2 separate regions of the Homo sapiens genome follow, and region 2 is reported to be linked to region 1. The links are microRNA targets in miRTarBase. Many come from high-throughput screens and were not tested one by one. Region 1 holds a microRNA gene; the other region holds the end of a gene's coding sequence.
The links. The annotated mature microRNA hsa-miR-1183 reads CACUGUAGGUGAUGGUGAGAGUGGGCA and lies in region 1 at 3,480-3,506, opposite strand. An mRNA with a match to its seed (bases 2 to 7 or 8) in the 3' UTR can be bound and repressed. Matches are read on the target gene's strand: a 7mer-m8 pairs with bases 2 to 8, a 7mer-A1 pairs with bases 2 to 7 and ends in A, and an 8mer does both.

Region 2: the mRNA of GATA6 is a reported target of hsa-miR-1183. The part of its 3' UTR that is shown has no 7-base or 8-base seed match.

Annotation. Positions count from the first base shown.
Region 1 is chr7:21,469,434-21,474,610 of GRCh38, reverse strand. It overlaps MIR1183 (microRNA 1183), which reads right to left and starts at 3,553; the gene lies at 3,465-3,553. All of the region lies in intron 3 of SP4 (Sp4 transcription factor), which reads right to left.
Region 2 is chr18:22,200,118-22,205,117 of GRCh38, reverse strand. It overlaps GATA6 (GATA binding protein 6), which reads right to left. Exons shown (of 7, transcript NM_005257.6): 7 at 2,590-4,462. The coding sequence ends at 4,295. Among named protein-coding and RNA genes, the nearest start is that of GATA6, 33 kb to the right of the region's middle.

The DNA of each region.
Region 1 (5,177 bases):
ATAAAGCAATACATAAACAAAAGGTATAATTATTTTGTTTCAGTGTTTTTGAACATGTATTCAGTAAAACTAGATGGCTTAAGGATGACCTTGGCTACAAAATCTATTCAAACTACTTGTGTACCAAGAAGCACAGTGATACACACACTTTGTTTACTGCAAAAAATGCATTTCTAGAAATGAGAGTACTGTCTGAACAAGCACTATACAAAATCTACAGCATGGTCCCTATGGAGCTGCAGGTATTTTAAGTTGGTAAGTACCCTTTACATCCCCTGAAGACACAGGTATTTTTGGCCGTGATTCTCTGACTACTTTTCTCATAACATTTATATAACAGTCATTACTTTAAAGGTCGCAATAATATTTAAGATGACCTTTATTTTGGTAAAGAACTGCTAGATGAGTTTCAAGTCAAAGCTAAGTCTGGGGGTGAGGGGTGGGGAAGAACTGCTAGAGATTCCTGATCCCTCTGGTCCCCTGACCATGTCCTTGACACACTCCTCAAGCCTCCATATTGTGAGCATTTCTTTGTTCAATGCCTAAACAACTTGGAAAGTTATTTCAATGAATAACAGAGGCAAATTATATTTGAGTTTGTATATTGAAGCCCGTTAATTGACTTCATCTAGATGTTTCACAGACAGCTAAGTTCAACATACTGCTTTATTTCCACTGCCATCAGTAAGCCACCAAACTCCAGAGCAAGACCTCCGAGGCCCCACTTAAGTTTAATTCTATTGACTTCTCAGAGCTCATCTCTATTAGTCTCTCCCTTGCTCACTCTGCACCTGATATACTGGCCTCTCTTCTGGCCCTCAAATAAATCAAGCTCATTTCCTTCTTAGGGACTTTGCATATACTCTCCAGTCTAAGTGGGGATGCCTTTGCACCCAGATCTTTGCATAGTTGATTCCTTTGTAATATTCTGGTCTGAGTTCAAATCTCTCCTCTTTAGAAATGCCATTCCTGACCATCCCATCTAAAAGCTCCCCTCAATATATCACTGTATCATCACCTAGTTTTGTCTTATTTGTCTTAAATTACTTTGTCCTTTTATAATTTGGTCTTCACCTCACTTCTGAAGGTAAAGTGCCATGAAAGTAGGGATCTTGCCTATTATGTTCACTGCTGTATCTCTAGTACCGTAACAGTGCCTAATAACTCAATAACAGTGCCACTCAATAGCATATGCTTAATAAATCAAAGTTTAAAAATAAAAAATGATTTCATCTTCCAGTCTTGCTTCTGCTAATGTCCCTGTTTCAGTAAATGCTACCCCTATTCTCCTTGTTATCCACACTGAAAACCTTAAAATGTCATCTTTTAGGCTACTTCTTTACTCATTACATCCAGTGATGACCAAATTTTGAAGACACTACTGCCTAACAGCTCTTACGCTAACCTGTTTCCAAGCAAGATTATCATCTTGATCCAAGCCCTTGTTCAATCTGTGCCTCTACCAACCTAAATTGAGCTTTCCCTCCTTTCTCATCCTTCACACTGCTGCCAGAAAAATAAAAAAGTAGTGTTCTGATCATCTCACTTTCGTGCTCAATAACATTTAATCATTCTTCCACCGACCAAAGTCTGGCATTCAAAGCACTCTACCACAAGGACTTACTCAGCTCCTGGTTCACAGTCTTCCTTCTAATGACCAAATCTATTGTGCATTTTTTCAGTGACCATTACAGGACTGCTCTGCTGCATTTGACACCACTCGCCACTCCATCCTTATTCAATTTTGACTCTGTGAGCTAACTTCCTACATTTCAGAAACCCCTTCTTCTCTGTTAGCTCCTTTTTGTTTGGTTGCTTTTTTTTTTCTTTTTTTTTAAGAGATGGGGGTCTCACTCTGCTGTTCAGACCAGTCTTGAACTCCAGGGCTCAAGCAATTCTCCTGCCTTGGTCTCCCAAGTAGCTGAGATTACAGGCATGCACCACCATGCATGGCCTTAGCAATTTTTTAAAATCAGCACTTAAATCTAAATTTATGTCACTTTCTGAAAAGATTTATCAGCCAGGTGCAGTGGCTCACACCTGTAATCCCCGCACTTTGGGAGGCCGAGGCAGGAGGACTGCTTGAGCCCAGGAGTTCAAGACCAACCTAGGCAACGCAGTGAGATGCCATCTCTTAAAAAAATTAAAAAATTAGCCAGGCATGGTGGCATGTGCCTGTAGTCCTGGCTACTCATGAGAATGAGGTGCTGAGGTGAGAGGATCACTTGAGCCCTGGGGATCAAGACTTCAGTGAGCCGTGATGGCACCACTGTACTTCAACTTCAGCCTGGGTGACAGAGAAAGTCCCTCTCAAAAACAAACAAACAAACAAACAATCAAACAAAATACACCCTCTACTCTTCCTAGGCCACTCTCCAGGGTTCTGACTTCTCATTCTAACTCTCTTCTTGGGGGACCTCATCTACTTTCATAACTTTTACTGCTATGTGTAAGCTGATTAACTCACAGATCTGTGCCTTCCACTCAGAAGTGTCATACTCTTACTATCAACTGCCAGTGAACACTTCCACCTGAATCCTCACAAGCAATCTAAGAACCAGATAGCTTAGCCCACTTTCCTAATATAGCTCTTTTTCACCATTCAAATAGAAAATTTGGAAGTCATTCTTGATTCCTCTCTATCTCCTTCACCCTGACAACAAGAGCAACTATTGTTTTATATCTACTATGTGGTAAGGCACTTTACTGGATGTTTTCCATATATTGTTTCACATCCCTATGGGCTAAATATTACTGTCCCAAATTTTTATTTTTAATAAATGGAGTCTTGCTCTCTTGCCCAGGCTAGAGTACAGCGGCACAATCATGGCTTACTGTAGCCTCTAACTCTTGGACTCAAGCAATCCTCCTGCCTCAGCCTCCTGAGTAGTTGGGACTACAGATGCATGCCACCACACCTAGTTAATTTTTAAAATTCTTTTAGAGATTATGTCTCACTATGTTGCCCACGCTACACTCAAACTCCTGACCTCAAGTGATCCTCCTGCCTCAGCCTCCCAAGTAGCTGGGACTATAGGCACAAGCCATGGCACCCAGCTTACTGTCCCAATTAAGATGAGAAAACTAAGGTTCTCAGGGGTATGTAAAACATCCAAGATCCTAAAATGGAAAAGTGACAGAGCTGGGATTTGAACCCACACTTATCCAACTCAAAAAGCTATTCTCTTTCCACCATATACATTATCTATGTTGATCATAAGTCCCTGTTAAGTCTACCTCTTCAAAATATCTCAAATGTCTCCATTTTCACCATACCTATTGCTTGTACACTAGTGCAAGCCCTTATCACCAGTTTTGCCCCTTCTAATATTCATATTGCAGACCTAGCTCCCCAAAAAGCCAATGGGCCCTCCATACATTCACAATAAGGTCAGTATTTCTTAGCATAGTACATAAAGTTCTTCATGATCTAACTCCTGCTTAGTTTTATAACTTCATCTCTTGGCACTCCTGCTCCATGCCCACTCTCACCATCACCTACAGTGAACTCCTGTCTTCTCTAATGTTCTGTGTCTCCGAGCATTTGAATAATATAGCTGGAATCCAACACATTCTCCCACCCCAAACCTCCATCTCCCTTGGTCTGACAAAAGTCTATTCATCTTACAGATTTTAGTCTTTAATCCTTCTTACCAATGAAACTGCTTTGTAAAATAATTTTTTTAATAACTCAAAATTTCTTGGTATTGTAACTACACATTATGGTGAAACAGACTGAGGATGGCCGTTCTTTTATTTTTCTTCCACATTACCAGAGGTAAAACATTCCAAGGCTGCTTGGAGCAGCCAAGCCATCTTTCTTATTCCTTTTTTGTTCTGCTTTTTTTTTTTTTTTTTTTTCCAAATATAGAAACTGGGCCAAGGTAATGGAGGGGGACAGTTTGTTGGTAGGTAGTAAGACATCTGAATTGCTAACTATTCAACAAGATCTAGCTTGTTGGACATTTCTTGCTCATTTTCTTTTAGTACCAGTAGTTTTTTGCCTTAGTAGAGTAGTAAAATTTGAGACGACTTGAATTTAAGCTAACACGTAGAAAGGAAAGTCAGGTTTAGCTGGTAAAGGAAAAAGGCATATTCCATATAGAATAACCTAGTTCTCTGGATTGTGAGGCAGGGGCCTATGCCTAAGCCAACAAATTCTAACTTGAATTTTGGTATACCTAGCTCCCTAAGGGATCTCAAGAATTGGTTGAATTAGAATTTAAGTATTTCTGGTCTTACTAGTAAGACACCATCTCACTCCATCATAATATTAGTCATAAATTATTTCCAACAAAAGCTGCTCAAGAAAGAGGCCATCTGTGTGGTTTTTATGTCATTTGTCCTTTGGCTACCAAGGTTCCTGACACACTGAAAGTACTTAATGAATGTTTCTTAAATAAAGCGAATGATAATCTAAAATCTATACAAACATAGAAGCTTTCTTACGAAACTCGGCCAGCAGTATATCACAGGGCTGCTAAATGACAGCTAGTTTACAATACACATGCACATGGGTGACAAGACAGTAAGAAACCAAATCAAGTGGATATCTGCTACACTTCCTCCCTGACTCACTGATATGGCAGTCAGATCATTTAGAAGCAGATCCCAGAGCATAACTCTCAACCTTGGTTCTGAAACTATGTACTACTCTCTCAGGTATCAGATTTCTCCTATGACATTTGCTATCTACATTCAGCAAGGTGTTTTTTTTTTGAAAAGAGTATTATAAAAATATTAACTCTAAAAAATTATAGGCCCAGCATGGTGGCTCATGACTGTAATTGCAGCACTTTGGGAGGCCGAGGTAGGTGGATCACAAGGTCAGGAGTTTGAGACCAACTAGTCCTAGCCTGGCCAATATGGTGAAATCTTGTCTCTACTAAAAATACAAAAAAATTAGCCGGGTGTGGTGGCGGGCACCTGTAGTCCCAGCTACTTGGTAGGCTGAGGCAAGAGAATCACTTGGATCCGGGAGGCGGAGGTTGCAGTGAGTGGAGATCTCACCACTGCACTCCAGCCTGGGCGACAGAGCAAGACTCCGTCTCAAAAAAAAAAAAAAAAAAATTATAACTAAACTTGCCATTTAGGGAATAGGCTAAGATTTCTCCCTTTCTACCTATTTTGATGAAAATAAATAGTTTAGTATTACAAACACATACACTTTAAGTTTC
Region 2 (5,000 bases), not on the chromosome of region 1:
GGTGCAGACACGCACCTGCAACGTCCTAACTTTCCTTAGAAGCAATTTGGAACTATCAACCACAATATATTTATCCAAAGTCCCTATAAACTAAGACTTTCTGGCATCCTTTATCTTGAAGTTGAACCAACTGAAAACACCCTTTGACTCCTCTTCTGCCTGTCCTACTGATGTCTATCACCTTCTCCTGCCTGATCCCAGCCCCACCAGAAGGTCATAAGCGAAGTGGCCTTCTCAGAATGCAGCTGCTGAAGGTTCAGCCACACAGAATCCATCCAGGAGCCTCAAGCAGCCAGACCTGTAGGTACCACATTTTTTCCCACAGACCCTATTCTGAAAGATTTGGTCTAGCAAGTTTATTAATATGTTTCCCATTTAAAATAATCAAAGCATATCTGACTGCCAATTAGAGCTCCCAAGCAACAGAAGATAACTAGTATTGCCACACTGACTTGCTAGTATTTCAACCCAGAAACAAAATGCATTTTAGCCAGGTGCAGTGGCTCACGCCTATAATACTAGCACTTTGGGAGGCTGAGGGGGAAGGATCACTTGAGCCCAGAAAGTTGAGGCTGCAAGTGAGCTATGATTGTGCCACTGCTCTCCAGCCTGGGTGACACAGCCAGACTTTGTCTCAAAGAAAGAAAGAAAAAAAGAAAGAAAGAAAGAAGAAAGAAAGAGAGGGGGGGAGGGGAGGAGAGGGGAAGGGAAGGGAAGGGAAGGGAGAAAGAAAGAAAAAGAAAGAAAGAAAGAAGGAAAGAAAGAAAAAGAAAGAGAGAGAAAGAGAGGGAGGGAGGAAGAGAGAGCGAAAGAAAGAAAGAAAGAAAGAGAAAGAAAGGAAGGAAGGAAGGGGAAGGGAAGGGAAGAAGGAAGGGAGGAAGGGAAGGGAAGGAAGGAAGGGAGAAAGAAAGAAAAAGAAAAGAAAGAGAGAGAGAGGGAGGGAGGGAGAGAGAGGGAGGGAGGGAGGGAGGGGGAGAGAGAGAGAGAGGGAGAGAGAGAGGGAGGGAGGGAGAGAGAGAGAGAGAGAGAGAGAGAGAGAGAAGCATCTTAATAAGCCAGCACTGCCTGATTCTGAAAATATTTGCTTCTGCCTGCCACCTTTCTCCCCACTACACTGCTCCAACCTGAACTCACCCTGGAATCTGGCACAGCATTGAAGACTCGCTGGGTTGCCCTCCCAGCAAAGCAGCCAATTTATCTGTGATCTGAAATTACATCAAATTTCCAAGGACTGTGAAAAACATTTCCCATGAGCAAGAAGTTAATTTATTTGCACTGGGAAATGAATGGTTCCCTTTGCTTTCCTGACCCTCCCATAAGCACCAGGAAACAACATTAAGTGACCCTGAAAAGAGACCCCAGACAGAGCCTTCACTTATTTAAGATGGCCTCAAATCAGCCATGTGTGACAGAAGACATAAATTCTCCAGTCCACGATATACGGTCTGGGGATTCTTTAAGCTGAGGTGCAGCATCTATTTGAATGCATTCCCTTTTGAGAAATGATTGGGTCATGTTCAGTTGCACATGTCATACTTTGGGAGAGGAGTGCTGAAATTGTGTATTTGGAGCAAATTTAACAAACTTCTTTATGCAATCATAGGTAAGAAAGTAATCATTTAAAAACAGATAGTGGAGTTCATTGTGTTAGGACAGGCTACAAGAAGCCCCCTCTGTCTTCTGCCCACTGTAATTTGTTTCATAAAAACTAGAATTCTTTTTAGAATTGGAAGGAGCAATATTTGAGATTATCCCAGAAAAAGGGTCATTTGGAAGCCCCAAAAAGAAAAATTCATTTTCCAATCAAACCATATTAACTTTAACAACTCCCAACCCACCAAAAAGCACTCAAAGTAATGAGAACCATAAAAGGAGGGAGGAAAACAGACATCAGTTCGTGGGGATAATAATTTTCTTCTGTTGTCAGAACAGCCTTGTTCTATTATAAAACAATCAGCTCTCATGCATCCTCCCTCCATTTCTGCAACCCCCTGGATTAGAGGGAGTCTTTCATTTCACTCTTCTTGGCCTTGTTGAAGAAGCACAGGTGACCCACAGGACATCACTCTTACAGACCATAAACTTCTGATATTCCAGGTAGTCAGACATTATTCAAAGGATCTATGTTGCAAATCATGCCACTCTCTTTCAAAGTCAAGTTAGTACTTAATATGTGCCAGGTATTGTGCTAAGCACTTGGCATGGACTATCTCACTTAATCCTGTGATTTATATACTATTTGCCTTTATTTTATATTAGAAAGATGAGAGCTGGATAACTTGCCCAAGGTCACAGAGCTTATCCACGGCCAAGCAGGGAATTGAAGCCTAGTGATCTGCCTGCATACCCAACACTCTTAACCATTGTTCTGGCCCACCTTATGATATCAGGGTGCACGTGGGCCTTACTGAATTACCCAGAAACACACACACACACACACACTGGCTATGGACACTGTCCCTCTATAGAGTAGCATTCACCAGGACTAAGGAAGACATTCCTTCTCTTGAAAGATTCAGACTGAACCCCATAGAATGACTGTAATAAGTGCATGAAAAGAAGTAAAAAAATACTGTACACTCAGGGAGCCACAGTTAAAGGCCATCATTCTGTATTGTGAAACACCTCCTGATTTCCTGAAATCTACTCAACAATGAAGAAAATACAAAGAGGCCACTGGAATCATTTCTACCTATCTTCTGTTGGGGGTAACGTCTGCAACCTCAGGTGAGCTTTGAGACTTCAAGGCACGTTGCAAAAGGAAAAAACTGAAAGGAAATCGCCCTGTTCGTGGGCCAGAATATATTTCATTCACAAAGAAAAAAAATCTGAACTTTCTGGAATATTTTTAAGCATTGTTCCCAAACAAAATGCTTATCATCTCAAATATAATAATACTGAGTCCTTCCCACTTATAAAAACTGTCCCCAATGCACATGGAGAGTAGTAACTAACCCCATGTGTCAACTTCAAATAAGCCAAGGTATAAAAGGTACAAAACGGCTCCAAAAGGACTATGCTTTGAAAGGAAGGCCTTAAAGCATTTTGCAAACTTCACGTGCACTTGTTTTATATGAATATCTATAGTCACATACAGCATAAAAAGAAAGCTTTGAAAAGGGAAGGAACTCACTGTACAGAAGACAAAACAATACCCTTTTTATTTTTAAAACTCTGGTGAAATAGGTTTCCATAGGACATCCCATTCAAAAAAAAAAATTAATGTAAACCAACCTGCCTGTGGGTTAGTCACACTATACAGACTTCATCAGAGTGTTTACAGATACCTAGAGTATTTACAAATGCTATCCGTTAGGTAGTAAAGTGTTGTTGCAATTTTTCCAGCACATATTCCACAGTAAAATAAAGGGGGTATATTGGTGTTCTTGTATAAAAATTCTTAACAAATAGAGAAAGGCAATTTTCCTGAGAGAAGATTTGTTCTTGAAATATTTTTCTTTAACAATTGGAAATATAAAATGGGATGTAGTTGTAAAAGAAGCATAAGAATGTCTAAGTTAACATTTTTCTTTTAAATTATTTTAAGTACCATTAAGTTAAAATGTTTACATTCATTATAAAAAATGCTGTTAAATCTTATGCAAATGATTTAACACTGATTGCTGCAACGCAAATTGCACTTTTTAAAAAAATTATTGTATACATGGAAGAAAAATATCTTGTTTGCTACCCTGTTTACAAATTCCGACTGACTTCAGATCAGCCACACAATATGAACTTTGAGAAACGTCAGTCACAGTGTATGTTAAAGTTACAATGCAGTCTTGCAAACTGAGTAATATTTTTGATAAGAGACCTCATGAACCGACTCAGCCTCCAGAGATGTGTACCAAATGGCCTCAAGTGATCTTCTCCATGAACGCACATGAAATCTGGATGTGGAAAAGGTATGAAGAAATTCTGGAACAACCAAAATTGATCAGAAGAAGCACATGATTTTGGACAAAATGCAAAATCTTTTTTAAAAAATCTCTCTCAATATTCCATAGCAGGCAAGGCCCAGGTCCTAGTCCTGGCTTCTGGAAGTGGAGCAGGGTCCGCCCCGGAGGCGGGCTGGCTGGAGTGGCCCAAGCGCCCAGTTGCACTGGCCCTTCCCTTCCATCTTCTCTCACTCTTTCAGCAAGCCTCTTGGGAAAAACATCTCTTTCAAAATAAAGGCACGAGAATCACGTTCTGTCAGCGCAGTCGCCACTGTCTGGACCGCTGCACAAAAGCAGACACGAGTGGAGTGAGGCCCGCGGCGGAGCCCTCCCTGCCTCCTGGCGGCGTGGGCTCAGGCCAGGGCCAGGGCGCACCAGGAATCCGGTCGCACGGAGGACGTGACTTCGGCCGGCGAGGCGAGACTGACGCCTATGTAGAGCCCATCTTGACCCGAATACTTGAGCTCGCTGTTCTCGGGATTGGTGCTCTCTCCCGCACCAGTCATCACCGGGGCACCCGCCTGGCAGAAGAGGGGGACACAGAGGAGAGACGAGAAGGTGAGAAGCGGTTACAATCCTGGTAGTGAAATACATGGGAGCTAATGAACGGGTCTGTGCAGCCAGGGCCAGAGCTGCTCCTGGGCAGACCCAGGGCAGGAGAAATGAAGCCGGCGTTACTATCCCCTGCCCCCAGCAAGTGGGGGCCTTTCCCTGCATTGCACACAGTGCCACTGACCTGACCCTGGCCACTTAAGCCTTCGAAACTTTAGAACTCAGGGCAGGAGCCACTGGCAAGATGCAAAGCTGGACAAAAGGAAGGGGAACTGAAGAAATCCTATTTGTAAAAAGTGCCAAGCTCTAAGATCTCTGACTGTGAAACAAACCTCACTGTGTGGGTGAATAGGCATTAATGATGCACACACAACCTGATCATTTCCAAAGAGAAAATGCAGAGCGCACGCATGCGTGCGCGCGCACACACACACACACACACACACACTCTAACAAGGCTTATCCAGTGATGGCAAAGTCTTTTTAGACTTTTTAGAAAAGCTGCAC